Linked DNA regions of Homo sapiens: region 1 is linked to region 2. The links come from fine-mapping of genetic effects on gene expression. A gene starts in region 2. The other region holds a variant in brackets. All regions are shown on one strand. Distances are from middle to middle.

Region 1 (2,903 bases), 46 kb after region 2:
TGGCCCATCCTTCATACAGGGCTCAGAGAGGCCAAGGGAACTGCCTGAGGCCACACAGGAAGCAAGACCAGGCTTTGAAGCCCCAAGAGTAACATGAGGGCAGGAACCTGTAAGGCAGAGAGTCCTGGAACTGTGAGCCATTGGTCACTGGGTTTTTTTCTTTTGAGACAGGATCTTGCTCCATTGCCCAGGCTGGAGTGCAGTGGTGTGATCATGGCTTACTGCAGCCACGACCTCCCTGGCTCAAGTGATCCTCCCACCTTAGCCTCCCAAGTAGCAGGTCATTGGGCTTTTCTCCATGGTGATAGATGTAGTTAGCATTTCAGGACCAAAAACCTTCTGTATGTCAGCACTGAAGACCTCCAGGCCTAGATCCTGCAGTCTGTAGCCCACTTTGCCCCCATACCTCCCCACCCTAACCATAGCAGCTTCACATTGCCCCACCCCGATCCCCTCTCTGTCCAGCCCTGGGCTGGGGTGTGTCTGGGTCCAGGTCCTGCATGGATTGGGGGAAGGCGGATGGTTCAAATGGGAGAAAATACCTTACACTTTAATTAATTTAATGAATGTCTGTCAAATCGCCTGCTTCTTGGAACATGTAGAACTAAGCAAGATGTTCACAGAGGAGTGCTGTCTCCTCCTGGACCACGGGTGCTGTTCACAGCCAGGAGTGTGTCCTTCCACACCTTTATTTAAGAGGTCATTTGAAGCCAGGCGCGGTGGCTCACGCCAGTAATCCCAGCACTTTGGGAGGCCGAGGTGGGTAGATCACGAGGTCAGGAGATCGAGACCATCCTGGCTAATGCAGTGAAACCCTGTCTCTACTAAAAATACAAAAAATTAGCCGGTTGTGGTGGCGGGTGCCTGCAGTCCCAGCTACTCGGGAGGCTGAGGCAGGAGAATCTCTTGAACCCGGGAGGCGGAGGTTGCAGTGAGCCGAGACCACATCACTGCACTCCAGCCCGGGAGACAGAGGGAGACTCCTCCGTTTCAGGAAAAAAAAAAAAAAAAAAAAAAGGTCATTTGAAGTAAGGAACCTCAGAACCAGGGGCTGAGGGCCTGGAAATGGGGGCACAAAAGAGGGTGATAAATGGGCATGCAAGAGAGCATTGGAAAATGTAGGGGGCAAAGGAGGTCTGGGAAATGTGGACTCAAGGGAAAGCAGGAAAATGGGGGTGCAAAGGAGGGTGCAGAGAAGGGGGACGCAAAGATGCGAGATGGAAACTTGGCTGCAAATGAGCAGTGGGAAAACGGGCTTAAAGGACGGTGGGAAAATGAGGCTCAGATACAAGAGAGCTGGGTGAGTAGCAGACGGCGCTGTAGACGTGGGAGCAGCTCCTGGAAGGAACTGGCCGGAAAGGAATCTGGGCCGGCTGCACGCAGCCCCGCCCCTCGACCGCCCCAGCCCCTCTACCCTCCCAGCTTCTCTGCAAAGCCGCATCTACAGCCTCGCGCGTCTCCTGGCGGCGGCCCGTGGAAGCGCGGCCCTACGTGCCGGGGCTGGGCCAGGACTCTCCCTGCCAAACACGTCCAAATGTGCCCGGGTGCCCCAGGGACCCCGCCCAGCCGGTCAGCGTCAGGAAA[T/C]GAAGCAAGAATAACTTCCCGTGCCCCAGATTCCTACATCACACACCCACGGAACTTTGCAGGCATCCGACGAATTGCAAATGCAAGATACTTGCTTTTTTTTTTTTTTTTTTTTTTTGTAGAGACGCGGTCTCGCTATGTTGCCTGGGCTGACCTCTAAGTCCTAGGTTCAAGCCATCCTCCTGCCTCGGCCTCCTAAAATGCTGGGATTACAGGGATGAGCCACCGCGCCCGGCCAGGACGTTTAATATCATTGTCAAAATCATAGAAGGGCCACTCCAATACACCCTTATGGTGTGTTGAGACATTTATTTCTCCACATGCTTGGTCTCCTTTTTTATTTTTAGGGGATTAAAATTGTTTAATTTTTAATTATGTGGGCACATAGTAGGTGTACATATTTATGGGGATGGGAGATATTTTTTAAAAAGCACAATTAACCAGCCGGGCGCGGTGGCTCACGCCTGTAATGCCAGCACTTTGGGAGACCGAGACGGGCGGATCACAAGGTCAGGAGATCGAGACCATCCTGGCTAACACGGTGAAACCCCGTCTCCACTAAAAAAAATACAAAAAAAAATAGCTGGGCGTGGTGGCGGGCGCCTGTAGTCCCAGCTACTCGGGAGGCTGAGGCAGAAGAATGGTGTGAACCCGGGAGGTGGAGCTTGCAGTGAGCCGAGATCGCGCCACTGCCCTCCAGCCTGGGCGACAGAGCGAGATTCCGTCTCAAAAAAAAAAAAAAAAAAAAAAAATCACAACCAAAAAATGAAATGTGTTGAATACAATCACACACAGAATATTTATGTCAACGACCCATATTAGTCAACAAACTCTCCTCTTTTTTTTTTTTTTTTTTAATTTTCAGACGGAGTCTTTCTCTGTTGCCCAGGCTGGAGTGCAGTGGTGCGATTTCGGCTCACTGCAACCTCTGCCTCCCAGGCTCAAGCAATTCTCCTGCCTCAGGATCCTGAGTAGCTGGGATTATAGGCGCAACGCCACCACGCCCGGCTAATTTTTGTATTTTTAGTAGAGATGGGGTTTCACCACGTTGGCCAGGCTGGTCTCAAACTCCTGATCTCAAGTGATCCACCCCCCTCGGCCTCCCAAAGTGCTGGAATTACAGGCGTGAGCCACCGTGCCTGGCCTGAACTCCTCTTCTTAAATTCATGTGTTTGTTGTCAAGGGCAACAATTGGGTGTTTGGGAGCACTGAACAACAAATAGTGAATGAATGAGACCTGAGCTTGCGCCCACCCTTCAAGGTCAGAGAGGAGCGCGGCAGTAGGTTCGCCTGCTCACTTGTTCATGTAAACTTTGCGG
Region 2 (2,903 bases):
AAATTGAGTAAGGTGGAATTGCTGGGATTCCAACACCAGCAAAACCTGGGTATTTCACAAAGGGATCCAACCCACTTTAACTTTCTTTATTTAGAGATAAAGTCTTGCCCTGTCACCTAGGCTGGAGTGCAGTGGCACAGTCATAACCTACTGAAGCCTCTCTCTCTCCCAGGCTCAAGCAATCCCCCTGCCTCAGCCTCCGGAGTAGCTAAGACTACATGTATGTGCCCCCATGGTCAGCTAATTTTTTTTTCTTTTTTCTTTTTTTCTTTTTCTTTTTTTTTTTTTTTTTTTTTTTGTGGCCAGCTAATTTTCAAAAAAATTTTTTGTAGAGTTGGGATCTCTATGTTGCCTAGGCTGGCCTTGAACTCCTGAGCTCAAGGAATCCTCCTGCCTCAGCCTCCCAAAGGGCTGGGATTACAGGCATCAGACACTGTGCCCAGCCTCATTTATTTTTTAATTTTTTTTTTTTTTTTTTTGAGACAGAGTCTCACTCCATCGTCTAGGCTGGAGTGCAGTGGCGCGATCTCGGCTCACTGCAACCTCCACCTCCTGGGTTCAAGCGATTCTCCTGCCTCAGCCTCCCAAGTAGTTGGGATTACAGGTGTGCACCACCATGCTCGGCTAATTTTTGTATATTTATTTATTTATTTGAGACAGAGTTTCGCTCTTTTTGCCCAGGCTGGAGTGCAGTGGCGTGATCTCGGCTCACTGCAACCTCCGCCTTCCGGGTTCAAGCAATTCTCCTGCCTCAGCTTCCAGAGTAACTGGGATTACAGGCATGCGTCACCACGCCTGGCTAATTTTGTATTTTTTAGTAGAGACAGGGTTTCTTCACGTTGGCCAGGCTAGTCTCGAACTCCCGACCTCAGGTGATCTGCCCACCTCGGCCTCCCAAAGTGCTGAGATTACAGGTGTGAGCCACCGTGCCCAGCCCCTAATATTTGTATTTTTTTTTTTTTTTTTTTAGTAGAGATGAGGTTTCACCATGTTGGCCAGGCTGGTCTTAAATTCCTGACCTCAAGTGATCCGCCTGCCTTGGCCTCCCAAAGTACTGGGATTACAGGCATAAGCCACCGCGCCCAGCTCTCGTTTATTTTTATTTATTTGAAACAGGGTCTTGCTCTGTTGCCCAGGCTGGAGTGCTGTGGTGCAATCAAGGCTCACTGCAGCCTCGATGTCTCCAGCAATCCTCCTGCCTCAGCCTCCCAAGTAGCTGGGGTTACAGACGCACGCCACCACACCTGGCTAATTTTTGTTATTTTTAGTAGAGATGAGGTCTCCTTACGATGCCCAAGCTGGTCTCAAACTCCTGGCCTCAAGTGATTCTCCTGCCTCGGCCTCCCAAACTGCTGTAATTACAGGCCACCGCGCCTGGCCTAGCCTACTTTAAGGCCGGCACTGCACTTGACAAACACTAACTCAGATCAGAATCCTCCCACAACTCTGTGAGGTTGGGTACTCTCGCTATGAGCTACTTGACGGATGGGGAAACTGAGGCTCAAAGAGGTTAAGTAACGCGTCCAAAGCCACAAGACTAGAAAGTGGTGGAGCTGGGACTCGAACCAGGCCCAAGACTCTATGCTTTTAACAGCCGTGCGTATAGTAGAAGCTCTTTACAAGCAGCTGGGAAAATGAGATGTTGCTTGGCTAGGACGGGCTCTAGACGCTTGGTGCAGCTTCCAGCCCCTCCCACCCGCTCTCTGAAAGCCCCGCCCAAGACTCGGCCCCTCTTCGTCCTCCCCCATCCCCCGCTCCGGGAACGGCCCTTCCTCCGCCTTCTGGGCGGAGCCCGCGCGGGATCCGGGTGGCTGCAGGCTGCTGGCTTCTGCGGCTGCGGGGTCGGGGTCGCGGCCAGGGCCAAGCCGCAGCGAGTTCACAGGCGGAACCCCTGCAGGCGGCGCCCCCTACGCGAGGTCACCCCTGGGAAGGAGCGCAGCCCACCCGGCCCCTCCGCATCCGAGCAGGTCTGTGGGGTACGGGGGTTTGGGAGGAAGGTAGGGGGTCTGGGGAACAAAGGCGGGGCTGCGGGGAACGCCTCTGCCCTCGCCCCCACCCAGCTGGGCACTTGGGAAGCGCTGATGGGGCGCGGGCGGGGCAGAGAGCCCAGCTGGGGACAGGCGTTGGGACCATATGGTGATGGGGGAAACTCCTGAGTCCACCTGCATTGGCTGGGGCGCCCCAAATCTAGTGAAGGGGAACAGAGGCGAGCCCTCCGGGGCCAGGCTTGAGGGAGGGTCGGCAGATGGTTAGAAAGAGGCGGGACCGACTGACACAGGTGAGCTAAGGCTGGGGGAGGTGGGGGCCCCAGCCTTGCGGCCCTGCCCTGCGTGGGGAAAGGTTTCCTGCCTCTTCTCTTCCCCTCCTTAAACTCGTTCTCCTGGAACACGGGGTGGGGCCGGTTGGGTCCTGGTTTAAAATGGAAAAAAGCCCCAAAGGCAGTTGAGAAATAGCTGTGCCAGGGCTGTCTCTGCCTCTGCCCCGCCTGCATCCAGGCCTTCTGCAGCCTCTCCGTGCGGTTCCCGCAGCGGCCATAGACAGCTGGGGAAACTGAGGCCTGGGAGAGGTTATGAGGGTTGAGGGAGCACCTTGGACTCGGATGAAGCAGCATGTTGGAGTGTGGGCAGATTCAAGGAGCCTAGCCGTGGGACAGATTGCCTGGAAAGACCAAGGGTGGGCGGCAGTGGTCGTGGTGGTGGGGTTGTGTTAATTAAGTGGCTGGGATCGTTTCCTTGGGTATAAGGACTCTCACTCCTGCCTCCGTGGACTGGGGCTGGAGTGAGTCAGCCTTGGGCAGAAGGAGACAGGCCTGGCCCCTTTGACAAATAGAAAATAGCAGTACCCATTTAGGGGGTAGAACTGGACTCTAAACCTGGGCCCTGTACATAGAAAACCCCTTCCCC

The links. PIP is the estimated chance that this variant, and not a neighbour inherited with it, causes the effect.
Region 1: its variant is fine-mapped to the expression of RAB3D in whole blood (TOPMed, PIP above 0.99).

Annotation. Positions count from the first base shown.
Region 1 is chr19:11,292,510-11,295,412 of GRCh38, reverse strand. No RefSeq gene overlaps it. Among named protein-coding and RNA genes, the nearest start is that of TSPAN16, 2.2 kb to the left of the region's middle. The variant T/C (reference allele first, on the strand shown) is at 1,585.
Region 2 is chr19:11,338,533-11,341,435 of GRCh38, reverse strand. It overlaps RAB3D (RAB3D, member RAS oncogene family), which reads left to right and starts at 1,779. Exons shown (of 5, transcript NM_004283.4): 1 at 1,779-1,967. RefSeq lists a silencer at 1,737-1,996.